Regions from separate parts of the Homo sapiens genome. Here region 2 is linked to region 1. The links come from fine-mapping of genetic effects on gene expression. Tissue or cell type: whole blood. Region 1 holds a variant in brackets; the other region holds the start of a gene. All regions are shown on one strand. Distances are from middle to middle.

Region 1 (8,187 bases):
CTAATTTTTGTATTTTTAGTAGAGATGGGGTTTCACTGTGTTGGCCAGGCTGGTCTTGAGCACCTGACCTCAAGTCATCTGCCTGCTTTGGCCTCCCAAAGTGCTGGGATTACAAGCATGAGCCACGTGCCAAGCCATATACATTTCTTATAATATTTCAAAAAACATTGACTGAGTGTCTTTTATGTGATAGACACTATATTGGCAAATATGCATCACCCCCCAAAAATTTGATTTTTAAATCAGTTAAGGTGCTGTCAGCAGCGTGTAATATAAACTCCAACTCAGTATGACTTAAACGATAAGGAAATTTATTTTCTATTTTAACAAGAAGTTCATAAGGAGGGCTGCTCTGGGTTGAATTAACTCGGAGCTCAACCGCATCGTCAAGGATTCAAGTTTTTTTCCATCTTTAGGTTCTGCCACTTTAAGATTCTGGCTTTGTCCTCACACTATCATCCTCCCTGGGAGACAGCTGACTCAGGTGTCCCTGATGGATGCAACAATGTCTAGAGGAATAAGAGGACCATCTCTTGCATTATTTCTTTCTTGAGGAAGAGAATCTGTCTCAGGAGCCCCCTGCTCTATACACATTTCATTGGCTAGAAGGAGGCCACGTACTCAGCCCTAAAATAATTCTTAATCCCGTGAATGAGATAACCACAATAGACTTAGACAAATCAAGTCTCCTGGGCTCCTGGGACTAATTTCCCCATGTAGAATAGAATTCCTACTTGAAGAAATTGGAGTTTTGCAATGAAAAAAAATGGGGGAATGGATATTGAGTTGGCAATTGACAGCTTTTGGTTGAGGACACAGATATGTTAAAGATGACTGTTCCTTTTTCCTCAGAACTTTTGGTGAAGCCCAAATAGATGACATAGGCCCACACATTTTATGGAGAGATGATAGACATGCCTATACAACCATATGATCCTTCCCAGGCTAAGCTGTCACTCGCCCACTTCTGGATGATGTGCTTTTTGTGTGCACATTGTGTCTGGTTTCCTTTGCTTGGCGTAATATTTTTGAGATTCATCCATTGTTGCATGTATTAGTAGTTTTTTCTTTTTCTAACTTAGCAAAATTCTATGGGTTTTTTTCCATGTATCTGGGAAGATTACACCCCAACAGCATTTACAGTTTAAGGTGAGCAAGCACATCAGCTCCTTTCCAGAGAGTAGTTTGTCCCTGGAGGCCCAGTGCTCTGGAGTGTTCCCATTGCAGAGCTGTGACTCCCAAGGTCAGGAGCATGCAGAAAGAGAAGATGACAGATTGCTAGCAGACACCTGTCTGCTGCTTCCACTGCTGGAGAAGGCCCAGATACAAGTTGCATTGTACTGAGGGCTCCTGGGGATCCCCTAAGACGGTGAGGAAGTACAACTTTCTCCTTACAACTTGTCACCTACAACTTTCTTTCTCCTTACAACTTGTCACCAGAACTCCTTTTGTTCTGAGATTTTTGGACTTCGCATCTGAAGCAATAATCCAAATCACACGACAGCCTGCTGCAAAGATATTTTCCCCCTCTTGCCTGACAGAGTCCTGGAAAACAGAAGGCAGAATGAGGCAGGGAGGTTCCCCTCCTGTCTAAGTCCTACAGGGTACATTATTAGCAAACTCTTGGCCTTGAAGTTAGGAGTTGAGTCCAGTATCTAATCCAATCACTATTTTCTGTTGGAGTTATAGTAATCCCAGGCCTCAGGACACCCAGAACTATGAGCTAAACACTTAATTCCTCAGTATATTTAACTCATGTGGTTATGAGTCATTGTTAATACATTCAACAGATATGCTGGTTTCCAAGTTGCCTATCCAAAGTAAGGGTTTTAATTATTTTTCTTAGTGATTTGCTCATGTCTGCATACCAGCAGTCAGGCTTGGCTGACCAAAGCCATCTTGAAATATTTAACTTAGAATTCTGTATAGGACTAAAACACATCAAATATTTCTAAGATCTCTATCCAGAGACACAGGACACTCATCAAAGTTAAGTTCTAAACCAAGTTACAGTAGAAGGTAAAAACCAACTTTGCATTTTATACATTAATATCATATATAGAATCAATGAAATTTTACATGTTGTATTCCAGAAACAAGCATATTTTATCTTTTACAAAATTGAAAAAAAAGTTTATCTGGTAAGAAATAATTTGGAAACTTCTAGAACAGTGTCTAAGATAATGAAATTCATAAAGGTGCTTATTTTCATTTATATCTTGATATATAGCTTGAAATGCAATATGCCTCAATTTACCTGAAGCGTCAAATTAAATAAATAATAGAAGTTTGCAAAACAGGCTGTTCTTTCTTGCCACTTCGAGCTACCACTGTCTTCCTCCACCCCTATTTTGGAGGTAGGTGGGGAATAGTATATGCTTATTTTGAAATCAAACAATGTAGAAGTGCATAATGTAGAAAGTAAAAGTTTTCCCTGCTATTGACCCCCAACATAATCTCACTCCTCTAAAATAACCATTGTCTGTAGTTTGGTACATATATTTCTAGTCATTATACATATACAACTGCATTAGAATATAAACCAAATAGGATTATCATATACATATTATGCTATAACCTGCTTTTTTCACTAACAGTGAATCCTGGACATCTTTCCCTATGAACACTTACAGTTCTTCCTTGTCTTTTAATTAATTTAGTATTTTCACAGTATTCCATGGAATGGAATAAATTATATAACCAGTTGCATATTTGTAGACACTTTAGCTTCTGTTATAAATGATGCTTCAATTAATATCATTGAGTAATATTCCATTATTTAATACCTTCCCAATCTGAATTGACCTTGTTTGTTTATTCAGTAACTTGCTTATTGCCTGATACCTCCTGGAATGTAAGTTTTATGAGAGCAAGGACCTTTAGTGTTTTCCATTAGATCCTTATCCCTGAGATGGTGCCTGACAGATACCATAATTTGTGATTATTTCTGGGATCACTTGGCTGTTTCTAGAGTCCATCAATGATGCAGGGAGTCAAGGGGCACTCTGGAGAGGTGGCCGCCTCTGGTCCTCTCCCTGCCTCGTCCCACATTCAGCCCTTAGAGCTCCTTCCTGCCCAAGCAGTTCTCTTTTTGGAGAGTCTGATGCCTTGGGATCTTTCCAGTCTGAAAGCCAGGATCCAGTTTAGGTCTCAGGAATCCCACACCCACCCTGGCACCTTTCCTCTTTGCAACCAATCTGGCTGTATGGGGCCAGGACACATTTAGTCACTCGCATCCCCTGACCCCTGTGTTCTTGGCTGTATCTGATGTTCTCCTGAGGGAATGAATGCCCTTCATTGATCCAATGTGTTGGGAGCTGCACAGCAAGAAGTATTTGATATAAAAATACTTTAAGCTGGGTGTGGTGGCTCATGCCTGTAATCCCAGCATTTGGGAGGCTGAGGCAGGGGGATCACTTGAGGCCAGGAGTTCAAGACCATCCTGGCCAACATGGCAAAACCTTGTCTCTACTAAAAATACAAAATTAGCCAGGCGTGGTGGCCTGTGCCTGTAATCTCAGCTCCTCAGGAGTCTGAGGCAGGACAATCGCTTGAACCCGGGAGGTGGAAGCTGCAGTGAGCCGAGATTGTGCCACTGAACTGCAGCCTGGGCAACAGAGTGAGACTCAAAAAACAAAACAAAACAAAAAACTTTAAAATATTTATTTTTCTTTTGGATAAAAGTAACAAAATCCTTTAAATATCACCATGACTACTGAAGGGTAATGATTATGCTCATGAAATAAAACTTAAATCAGCGACAAACCAATGCTTTCATCTAGGTAGTGTCAGAAAGGGGGAAAATTCTGAGGCCTAAGCTGATATCCTATAGCTGCCTCTTCCCTCACCCACCCCATGTTTCCCTCTTCATCCGCCAGCCTTTCATTTGGTTGGAGGCTTTTTTCCAAGTGAAGACACAAACTGTCATTCCTAAATGATTAAGGTCTTGGTGGGCCTGTCTTTGTTGGGTTGCCACAGTTTTCCAAGGAGTGCAGTGGTGCGATCTCAGCTCACTGCAACTTCCGCCTCCCAGGTTCAAGTGATTCTCCTGCCTCAGCCTCCCAAGTAGCTAGGACTACAGGCATGCGCCACCACACCCAGCTGATTTTTGTGTTTTTAGTAGAGATGGAGTTTTGCCATGTTGGCTAGAGTGGTCTCAAACTCCTGGCCTCAAGTGATCTGCCTGCCTGGGCCTCCCAAAGTGCTGGATTACAGGCATGAGCCACCACGCTTGGCCTCTTGTTAGATATTATATGTTCTGTTATTTTGGTTATCTTCTTCGGGGTCACTAGTTATATAAATATTAATTTTCTTTGTCTTCTGTAACTACCATTTTCTCTTTCAATTTATTTAACTCTTAGTCATTTTTATTTATTTTACTATTTTCATTCCTCTTCTCTATGTCCATTATCATGTTATAGGAAATGTGTATTTTCTGTGCTGCTTCCAATTCTTTTCTATTTCTTTCCAGAGTTTTGGCAGTAATTCATGTTTTGCCTCCTTGTATCTTTTCCCCATGTCATCTCCAAGCTCTTATATTGTGTATTTCTTTTACAGTGTTGATTGTTTCACTGATTTCTAAAACTTGTAAAAATGATACGTTTTGTCAAACATGTTATCTACCCTATAGCAATATTTTCTGGGAGGGATTCTGTGTCATTTGTTTGTCTTGTTTCTCTTCTTTTCTTTTTCTTGTAGCTTTATTGTATAGGTCCTCAGTTCCACTTTAAAATTGCTATTCATTTTTTGATGAGTTGAATTGCTTCTGAACCAACTATTGTGTAAGAGTTCATGTAAGTGAGAAGCCAGAGTATTGTTCCAG[C/T]GTAACAGGAATTCTTATTTTGACACAGGATTGTGCATACGACCTCTTTCAATCTTTTCTCTAACTAATTATCAACACAGGGCTAAGAAGAAAGCAGAGCCTCTTCTTTTTCACTTTATTTACAAATAGATTTACCAAATACCTCTGTAGTTTGTCTGAGTGAGTGCTCATTTAGTTATACCTCCCCCTGATTTTTGAGAATGTATGTTGATGTTAAACCTGCCACTGGAGAATGTGGCTTATTGTGAGAGTCAAATGGGCTTGCTTGTGTTCCTGGCCTCCTGATCCTCCCAAGATTAGATCTTAGAACACATCACCCAAGGCAAAATTTGGTCTTCAGAACAGACCCATTTACCTGAGTGTGTGTGATAGAGGCTTGACGTGTGGTTTTCTTAGGAATTCTTAAGTGGTGTTCCAAAAGCTTCACACACACACACACACACACAGATACACAGATACACACACACACAGACATGCACTTGATATTTATAAATTTTAAAACCTAGGGTGCCAATTACACCTTTTTGTTTGCCTTAGTAAACAGGGCTTTATAACCAGTAAATGGTCCTGTGTCCCAATCCAGAGAAATATGGAAGAAGGGTCTTAGTAAAATATTTTAAAAATCATAAGGTTCTATTATTCCCATGGGTCTCTGTTCTATGTATGAGACATAATCTTAACTCCTTGGTATATCTCAAGTTCCGTGCCGTGAGGACCTGGTCTAGAGCTTGAAGTACAGATGACAGTGGACTTTATCACCTCCTCCCACTCCCAGAAAATGAGGAGGAGGAACTGTAACATGCATCCCAGTCTGAATACCAGACTCTAGTCCTGAAAAACATAAAATCAACCCAAACCTTGATGTAATCACTATACATTACATATATCAAAACGTTGTTGTGTATCCCACAAATAGGTACAATTATTATGTGTCAATTAAACAATTAAAAAATTAAAAAAATTTTTGGCCGGGTGTAGTGGATCATGTCTGTAATCCCGGCACTTTGGGAGGCTGAGGTGGGTGGATCATCCTGGCCAACCAACATGGTGAAACCGTGTCTCTACTAAAAATACAAAAATTAGCTGGGCATAGTGGCACGTGCCTGTAGTCCCAGCTACTTGGGAGGCTGAGGCAGGAGAATCACTTGAACCTGGGAGGCAGAAGTTGCAGTAGACGAGATCACATCACTGCACTCCAGCCAGGGTGACAGAGCAAGACTTTGTCTCAAAACAAAACAAAACAAAAATTTTAAAGACAGAAAAATGCTGTTGAGAGTCACTGAGTTCAGGGTCTATAGTGTGCAGGTTATCTTGCCAAAATATCATATACTTTTTCTTCTTGGCTATATTCTAGAGGTTGAATGGCAGATCTAGCAGTGATAGAAGAATATCTTTGGGAGACTCTAGTGGTCTCCTGGGCCACAGCTGGGGCTTACCTTTCACTGATGTATTAAGTATTCTTATTGGAACATTTTGTCCTCTTGGTTAAAAATAATGAATCTTTGGTTTAAGTGTCAGATGGTTAGGAAAGTTATTTTTGCTATTGGCAAACATATTAAGAGGAAAAATTGACTCATCTGGTCTAGAGGGAAAGGACTAGGTTAAATTCTAAAATCAAAACCTAATCTCTTAGCAGCTTAGGCAGTAGGCAAGTACAGACAAGAAACTTAGGCCCTTCACAGTTCAGCCTATGTAGGAACTATCCATCAATTTGGGAAATGCTGATCAAAATTCGATGGTCCCCATGAACACTTAGCCATGGCTACTAGGACAAAGCGAGCTATAAACAGACAACTTTCTCAGCTCCATGGGCTCCTGTGCCTCTGTCAGAACTCAAGGGCCTGGGTCAACTGCATGGCTCTAAGGGACATGGGTGAATATATTGCTGGAGTTTCCAGAGAAAAACGGGGGTTTATCTTCTGCAGAAAGCCACGAATGCCTTAGATTCTCCCTAACCTCAGATCTCACTTTTGAGCAGTTTCTCAACTTGAGGTTGAGGCATATAGAAGTAAATTGTGGTGATGTGTTGCCCACTGCTGGGGGCACTTGAGGTACTGGTGGTGTGTGCACTAGGGTGTGGACAGGAGGAATCGGCCCTGGTGGGTGTTCCACTGAACGCAGCCTACCTCAGCTTCCTCTCCTTCACCTGTGTCCCTGATGTCTCACCCTGGGAGGCTCCTCTGTCTTCCCTGTGCGGGAACAAATCAGCAGGTCTGGGCTTTATTTGTGGGGGTGGGAGTCAAATCTGGAGAAGGGACTGAAGAGAAAGAAGCAGGCACAGAGGTTCCCAATAAACATGTGGTGATTGCCAACTAAAGAGAATATGGTTCCAGAGAAAGGAGAAGCGCAGGATTGAGGAGCCAAGGGGAGTTTGAACTGGATGCACCGGTGGCTTTTCCCGACCTCAGCGGTGTGGGCTGCCCCTTCCTGGCCTGCAGGTGTGTGGCCCACATCCCCAGAAATAATGGCTGCTTCAGGCTCAGACTCAGGTAGATGTGGCTGAATCCACGAATTAGCTAGATTTGTGCTTAGTGGATTTTCTTTTTAAAAAAGCAGATTCTTGGCTGTGTGTGGTGGCTCATGCCTGTAATCCCAGCATTTTGAGAGGCCAAGGCAGGTGGATCACTTGACGTCAGGAATTCAAGACCAGCCTGGCCAACATGGTGAACACCTGTCTCTATTAAAAATACAAAAATTAGCTGGGTGTGGTGGCAGGCACCTGTAATCACAGCTACTCAGGAGGCTGAGGCAGGAGAATCAGTTGAACCCAGGAGGTGGATGTTGCACTGAGAAAATGTTGCGCCACTGCACTCCAGCCTAGGTGACAAAGCAAGACTCTGTTTCAAAATAAATAAGTAAATAAATAAATAAGCAGATTCTTAATGATGACATATGATATATTAATAGAGTCTCCTTATAAAAATGTAAACATTACAGATCAGGCTAAAGTCTGCTTTGTTCATCACTTACAATACTGACCCCCTCCACAGAGATAACCCATGTTTCTATATTTTCCTGGACTTCCCCTATGCATTTATATACATGTAACCATAGAAAACATATAGTATTATTCTATGGGGTGAAGGTTGTTAACACACATGGTATCATTATGCATGTAGATACATTTATAAGTAATAATAGAAAATATTAGTGTGGTTTTGTGGGGTGGATGTAGTTTATATACATGGTATTATTGTGTAAGTGTAATTTTGCAAGTTTTTTTGTGCTTAAAAATATTTTGGGAATTGATATGGTTTGGCTCTATGTCCCCACCCAAATCTCACCTTGAATTGTAATAATCCCTACATGTCATGGGAGGGACACACTGGGAGGTAACTGAATCATGGGGGCAGGTTTTTCTTGTT
Region 2 (8,187 bases), 43 kb after region 1:
GAGCAGGTGAAGAAAGGTAGGTAGACAGACGGCTCACCAGAGGATAGAGTGTGTGTAAAGATACAGAGGTGATGGACAGTAATATGGATTTGAATTCTCCAAATAGGTCAGTTGGCTGAAGCAGAGTGTGCAATGTGGGAAGGTACAAGATGAGAGACTGGACAAGCAGCCAGGGTCCCACATGAAGGGCCTGGAGTGCTCTAGAACCAGGTCTTTTTTTCCCCAGCTTTAGGGAAAATGATGAAGGATTTTAACCCTAAAGTGGACTGCACAAATTTGAATTATAATAAAATCATTGTGGCACCACTAGAGAGACTGAAGATTAGGGAGTTAACTTTTGCTTTGTTTTTGTTGTTTTCATTTTGTTTTGTTGAGTTGAAGTCTCACTCTGTTGCCCAGACTGGAGTGCAGTGGAACGATCATAGCTCACTGCAGCCTCCAACTCTTGGGCTTAAGTGATCCTCCCACCTCAGCCTCCAGAGTAGATGGGACTACAGGTGTGCGCCACAGAGATTTTATTTTTGGTCTAACAAGACTTTGTATTCAAGGCACTTGTAAGAAGGAAAAAGAGAGACAGAGCTAAACAGAGGTAAAACAATCACCCAGTTTAATTTTTATCTAAATGAAGTTTGCAAATAAGTAGCAAAGTCTGAAATTTACACATTGCATTCTAAATCATAAGAAATATTATCTTGTTTATCCAATCAGGACAAGGGCCTAAAAAAAAACCAGTTAAAGATGACATTATGGTCCATGTAGACAGAGAAGACTATCAGATTAGAGTGCTCAAAGGGACAAATCGCAGCTTTTCTGGGTTTCAGTTTCTTCATCTGTATAATGAAGGGTTCGGGGGTTCTTTACCTGAGCTATATTTCAATATAATTTGTTTTCTTTGTAATCCTACACATTTTATTTATTTAAATATTAAAACTTCTCTTATCTTGAGAAGGGGTTAATGTCATAAAAAAGGTTAAGAAGCTCTATATGATCTTTAGGGTCACTTACAACTCTCAACTTATAGGATTTTGGACATTCAAATACAGGAACTAAAAGAGAATACTACTGTATATGGATAAATAGGAAAGGGGCAGTAGGAAAAACACAATAGTATACACTGAGAAATTACATATAGGGATTAAAAGTCTGAGCCAGGGTGACATTATTTTTGCCTTTTCATTTCTCTTTCCTTTCTTCTATAGACTTAGGTTAATGCTGGTATTGTGACTGCTTGATGGCTCTCTTCTTTTGTATCCTTAAATTTACTGAAGTATGATTTATAGCAAAAAAAAAAACTTCATTAGTAAAGGCTATGAGAAAGGTTAGTTATAAGTGGAAAATTATATAATGAAGAGATTGGTAGTATTAGCAATCATATAAAAGAGGTAAGAACAAAAAGCCTTCTTGATAATATCCAGGCACAAAACTACTTGGGAAAGAAGCTAGGTAAATTAAAAAGTAATTTTTTTGAAAGTAAAAAAAATTTGGTTTTAAAAAGACGTGCAGAACAAAGCTAGTTGCTACCATCTTATAATTACAGGCATTTAATAGCAGGGATGCATCTCTCTTGAGTCTAGGTGATATGAATTTATAAGGTCACTGTTAGCATTCAAACTTAAAATGGTCAGCCAGGTGCAGTAGCTCGCGCCTGTAATCCTAGCACTTTGGGATGCTGAGGCAGGACGGATCACTTGAGCCTAGGAGTTTGAGACCAGCCTGGGCAACATAGTAAGACCCCATCTCTAAAAGAAAAAACAAAAACCTTAAAATGTATGTAGTTACCACATACAAAGGAAATTAGATTTAAAAAATTTAGGAACACTATTAAAACATGAACACTACAAAACATATTATCATCAGCAAAAAAGTGAATGAATGATGTAATTATTGCTTCACAGTGTTCTCACTATATACTTCATATTGAATCAGATTGAACCATCAAAATGGTTCTGATTCATGAAAGTCTCAGTGCATCATTTGTTCAGTTCAAAAGGACATCTAGCATCAGTTTGAAAAAAACCACTGAAAGATAACAATAATATAATCTGTACTATCCTTTTAAATAACATCTACTTAGTATTTATAAGCTTTCCTATTCCAGACATGAGTCCACAATGAGGCAGTCAGACAACTATTCAACTGAACAACAATAGAAAACTTTCAAAGCTGCAAAATCAAATCTAATCAATTTTAAAAATAGTATATATATTAAATTTGTAGGGATTTCCTCTCTTAGCAACAATCTGAGGGAAAAAAGCCTTTACTATTCTGTTTTTCTGGAGAAAAACTACAAAAACAATGCATGTGTCTAGTTTCCTTCAGGAGACTTAACAACCTAACAAATCTGTATGGGAAGGCAGGTTCCTGTCTGTACAGGTAGCTTTCTTCTCACACTCCCTAGTAATTTGCATATCTCTAAACCAGAGACAGGTAACTAAGGCACCTAAGGCAATCTTTAGTGTCACTGTACTCCTCCCAAGTGGTTTCTTTTAACAAGTATCTTATAAAGAACATATAAGTGCTATGCTTAGAAAACAAAGTCACTTTTTAGTGACTTTGTGATAGCCTTAAAATACAGTCTACAGCAACAAAATATTCTGATAATTTATTTATTTCAGAAAAACTGTACCAAGTGAATATTACAACTACTTATAAAAACTTGTAAATTTCTTCAGTTTTAGTCCAGGCAATAAATATTACATGTTCAGTGAAGTAGAAAAATATTCAGAATTCGCATTTCTAGAAGAACTATCATACTTGATTCAGGAAAGCAAAATATTTTCTAGGTACAAGGTATTTAGAAATCATGTGTAACCATACTTCATTATATAAAATGAACCCTATTCAAACGAATCTACTAAACAGGGCCGCAAAGGTACACAAAACATAAGTCAGTAGAGGGATTTAATTTTCAAAAGGACTTTTCAAAACACAACTTGTACACAACTTGAAGAAATCGGCTCTGTTTAAAAATAGACTTATTTTTACTAGTTTATTCTAGAACAGAGCATAAACTACTATTCAATAAACGTATGAAGCACTACTCACCTCCATTTCCACCGCGGCAATACTCTGGTCATAATGACCCATCAGATTAGGGAAAAACGTCATGTTGTAGGCCATTTTCATACATCTGGGAACAGTAATTGGTTCACAGGTGAAGAGACTGTGCCCTCTTAGGAGGGGTAGAAAAATACACGTCAACAAAAATGTAAACATTTCCATTTTCTTCAAATTCCTGATTTTACCACATGGCTTGGATGAATCACTCTTTGCATCCTCAGAAGATCCCCATCCAAAGATAAAATGTTCAAATTCCTCATTTCACTATTTTACTCATTTTCAGGCTTTCCTGAAAATGAGTCCTGGGTCAATTACTGTAAAAACAAAAGGAGGGTGTATCAGCAACATTTGTCATAAACTCAAATGTGGAGTCAAAGTGCAGAGTTAAGATTTTCACCCCAGGTAACAAACACTGGAAAAACAACGGAAAATTCTGTCCTAACGAGATACTCTTCCACCTGCCTTAGCATGGAATATATCATTTGCTAAGGAAGCTGCACCTCTAGGAAACCGATGCTAGGAGGTTGGTGCTGTATGGAAGACAGGGTTAAAAAGAGGGAATGGCAAGAGTAAGATGGAGGAAAAAAGGAAAGCTGGTGATTCGGAGTAAATTATAAAGGATTAATATAAGCATACAATCTAAGGGCCCCTGTTGGAAAGCTTATTAAGTACAAGAAAACTAAGGCCCTGGGAAATTCCTTAAGACCCAAAGAGTTCTTAAACTTGTAAAAGACTCTGAAGAGTCAGTTTTTGTGGCAGTCTTCTGGGTATGTAGTTTTCTCGATTTTCGTAAGGCCAACTAGAGGGAGACTTTTAGGATTCCTCCAGTGGAGGAGCAACATTGCAGTTTTCACTGGCTAGGAGGGTGTAGTGCTGCCGTCGAAAGGAAAGTGCGCAAATCTGTCCCGGGGGAAGGGCGAAGGCAGTCCCCTTGCGGGAGGAAGGCTGTAGGCCCCGGATTACGAATTACCCGCGCCCCAACACACACTGATGCCCGGTCCGCCAGCGCCCCACACCCGGGAACCTGCCCCAGGCCTAGAGCCAGACAGCAGCGTTCCTGGCCTGCGCGGCGCCGCGGGGCCCCGGCATCGCCTTTCAGAGCCGGTTCCCGCTTCCGAGGAAACTCAGGTGCGGGCCGTCCCGCCGTTGCCTCCCCAGCACCTGCGGCTCCCGGCGCGCCTCATCCCAGCCGCGGCCCCTCGCCCCTCGAGGCCCTCCCCGCTTCCCCCGGCACCCGCCCGGCCCCTGCCCAGTCCCAGCCGTGGAAGCCTCACCTCGGGGGGCGGTCGAAGGCCGCTGTCCCTTCCCGTCCCCGTCTAACCCACCGTTCCCCCCAGGGACCTGAGACGGCTCCGGGGTTGCGTCCGGGACTGGAGCTGCCTCGAGAGCCGCACGGGGAGCGAGAGCTGAGCGATCCCGCGAGACTGCGCCGCCAGGTCGGGCGGGCAGGTCCGGGCTCGCGGCGGCGGCGGCGGCGGCGGCGGCGGCGGCGGCGGGACTGGCCCTGCGCCCGGGCACCGCCTGCGCTGCGCCGCCCGGCCTCACTCCGCGGCCCGCCAGGACCCGGCCCCGGTGAACGGGCTCGGGGTGCCGAGGTCCGGCTGCGGGGCCGGGAAGCCACCTCCACCTTGCCGTCTGTTACGACCCCCGAGGCGCAAGGCTGAGCCCCATCTCGCTATCCGGGTCCGGAGGGGTTCACCTTAGAAGGATTTTTTGAAGCTCTTGGCGCTGGCTCTAAAAGAACCCACTTCCTTGCGGATTTCAGGAGTCAAGAATCCTTAAACGGAGCCAATTTGCTTTGTAAAGCCAATTGCCCAAGTGACTTGAGTTCGAAAGGAGATACTTCCTGGACAACTGCTATAAAAACAACAACAAATACTTTTATTAATTCGGGGAGCCTGGTCACCAACTGGATGCTCAGGTAGCAGTGGGATTCCAGCCCTGGCGGGTCCCACAGTTTTATTGATACAAACCCTAATAGGAAGTTGAACTGCTGTAGAAATCAACCTAGTTTGGGGTACCAACTCTGTCATAGATATTAGATAAATTACCCTAATCTTTAAGGGGCATAGTTTCCTCACAATATAGGAATGACAATAGTTGTAATGATGGTTAACGTTAATTGAGCACTGGCTGTAAGTCAAATAGTGCCAAGTTCGTTACAAGTGTTTACACCTAACCTGTAAGGCCCTCCTATGAAACAGGCAGAATAGTATGAGAAGCAAATGAACTTGTAGAAGTACTTTGAAAAATGCAAAGTAACTTGTAGATGGAGGCTATTCTTGTCAGATAAATCATCCTGTTGCAGAAAAGGAATGTCATATTTCCATACCTAGAAGGACAACCCTGAACAACCAGAGTAAGAGTTTTGGAATCTGTGGGGAAAGACGAATTTGGAGTGGGGAATTCCTCCCCAGTTTTATCAAAAGCTTACTGATGTTGGGAGACAGGTAGTGATGAAGAAATATTAACATCATTAAGAGCTGGATAGTTGATGTATTGCAGAATAAATTTCTATGTAGGAAGAATATTTTCCCCTAAATTTCTAATTTTCTACATTGGAAGACTATTTCTCTCCAGTTTCTACGAACTTAATGAGATCTTTTTGTGATCAGGCTCTAGTGACTACCAGGCAGTGAAGTATCACTAAAAGTATCATTTAAAAACGATACTTTTTAAAATATCGTTTGAAAACGATACTTTTAAAGTATCATTTGAAAACGATAGTTTTGAAATTCAAGTGAATACTTGTTCCATTATTTGGAAGGAAAAATTGTAGTAAGTTGATTTATACAGAAGTAAATAAAGCCTGTTTTATTTTTCATTGTATTTAATTATATAGTGAGCAGTGATGAACTAGAATGATTTTTTTTTTGTCAGGATGGATTTGGAATACTTAGGCAATCATCTATATCATCGCTTGTCTTTCACTGTACAATTTCATCCCAATGGTACGAGATTAAGAACACAAACTTTGGAGTTCAAAATCCCTGGGTTCAAAACCTAGCTCCAGCATTTACTTGCTGTGTGAACTTGAGCAAATTATTCAGATCCTCTTTAGTTTCTTCATCTGTAAATATGGAACTATCTGACGGTTTTCCTCATTTTCCTTCTCTTTCTCTTTGCATTGTTCCTCTGGGCTGATGCTAGGGGACAGTGGTGACCAAAAGTAGAAGAAACAGACTTTTACTTTTAAAGGCTAATTTTGCAAGGTACAGAATTATAGGTTGGTAGTTTTTTTCTCTGAACACTTTTACTCCACCTCTCTTCTTGTCTACGTGGTTTCTGAGAAGTTGGATGTCATTCTTTATTTTTGTTCCTCTATAGGTAAGCTCCTCATCATTAAGTATATTGTTACCTTAGGGTTTTTGTAGATGTTCTTTAGCAAGTGAGAAAGTTCCCCCTCTGTCCCTAGTTTGCTGAAAGTTTTTATGATGAAAATGTGCTGGATTTTGTCAAATGCATTTTCTGCATCTATTGATGTGGTCATGTGATTTTTCTTCTTTAGTCTATTGGTATGGTAGATTACATGAATGAATTTTCAAATATTGGACCAGCCTTGCATACCTGGGATAAATCTTGGTTATGCTGTACAATTCTTTTTATGCATTGCTGGATTCTACTAGCTAATATTTTGTTGAGGATTTTTACATCTTTGTTCAAGAGATATATTGGTTTATAGTTTTCTTTGCTAGTAATGTTTTTGTCTGGTTTTGGTATTAGGGCAATGCTGCTAGGAAGTATTCCCCCTGCTTCTATCTTCTGGAAGAGATTTTAGAGAGTTGGTCTAACATTGTTGGTGACTGACATTAATTTGGGGAAATTTTCAGTCACTATTGCTTCAAATATTTCTTCTGTTCCTTTCTCTAATTCTTCTCCTGGTATTCCTGTTACACATATGTTATACTTTTGTAGTTGTTTCACAGTTCTTGGATATTGTTTCTTTTTTTTAAGTCCTTTTTCTCTTTATTTTTCAATTTTGGAAGTTTCCATTGACATATCCTCAAACTCAGAGATTCTTTTCTCAACCATGTCCAGTCTATTAATGAATCCATCAAAGGCATGCTTCATTTCTGTTATAGAATTTTATATCTCTAGCAATTCTTATTCTTCCTTAAAATTTTCATTTCTGCTTACATTAACCGTCTGTTCTTTCAAGTTGTCTACGTTTACCTTTACAACCCTTAGTATATTAATCACAGTTATTTGAAGTTCCTGGTCTGATAATTCCAACATCTCTGCCGTATGTGAGTCTAGTTCTGATGATTGCTTTGCCTCTTCAAACTGTGTTTTTTGCTCTGTAGTGTGCCTTGTAATTTTTAGTTGAAAGCTGGACATGATGCACTGGGTGAAAGGCACTGGAGTAAATGGGCTTCAGTGATGCGGTGTTAAGATGTGGGAGGAGGGGAAACATTCTATAGACCTATGATTAGATTTCAGTCTTAGTGAGCTTGTGTCCCTAGGCTGGAAACTTCACAAGTGCTTCTTAGTTTTTATCCCCCTTCTTGGGTGGGACAGGATGTCTAGAGGGGGCTGGGGTTGGATATTTCCCATCTATCAGCTTGGTTAGGCTCTGCTAAAACTGTAATAGGTTAGGCTCTGGTAGTTTCTCTTGAGGGCAGGCCTTGTTAAAAAGAACAGAATATTTTGACATATTTCAAAATGGTTCTTTTCACCTCTCCCTGTTGGATGTAGGAGGTGATTTTTCTTTGATTTTCACTGAGAGAACCTGGAAGAACTCCTGGAGGTAAAACTTACAAAAGTGTGAGTGTGCCCTCCAAAGACTAGGCCCCCTCCCCCTTTGTGTGTGTGTGTGTGTGTGTGTGTGTGTGTGTGTTTGTGTGTGTGTGTGTCTCACTCTGTTGCCAGGCTGGAGTGCAGTGGCGTGATCTTGGCTCACTGCAACCTCCGCCTCCTGGGTTCAAATGGTTCTCCCACCTCACCCTCCCGAGTAGCTGGGATTATAGGTGCACACCACCATGCCCAGCTAATTTTTGTATTTTTAGTAGAGACGGGGTTTCACCGTATTGGCCAGGATGGTCTCTGTCTCCTGACCTCGTGATCTCCCTGCCTAGGCCTCCCAAAGTGCTGGGATTACAGGCGTGAGCCACCGTGCCCAGCTGACCC

Evidence for each region. PIP is the estimated chance that this variant, and not a neighbour inherited with it, causes the effect.
Region 2: FZD6 starts here. The variant in region 1 is fine-mapped to the expression of FZD6 in whole blood (TOPMed, PIP above 0.99).

What each region holds. Positions count from the first base shown.
Region 1 is chr8:103,338,563-103,346,749 of GRCh38, reverse strand. No RefSeq gene overlaps it. Among named protein-coding and RNA genes, the nearest start is that of CTHRC1, 29 kb to the left of the region's middle. The variant C/T (reference allele first, on the strand shown) is at 4,823.
Region 2 is chr8:103,295,143-103,303,329 of GRCh38, reverse strand. FZD6 (frizzled class receptor 6) reads right to left here and starts at 4,432. Exons shown (of 7, transcript NM_003506.4): 1 at 4,335-4,432; 2 at 3,046-3,374. The coding sequence starts at 3,222. LOC105369147 (a long non-coding RNA gene) reads left to right here and starts at 4,512. Exons shown (of 2, transcript NR_148216.1): 1 at 4,512-4,981. RefSeq lists enhancers at 3,952-4,001, 3,855-4,355, 4,356-4,856 and silencers at 3,995-4,289, 4,152-4,401, 4,522-4,691, 4,702-4,751.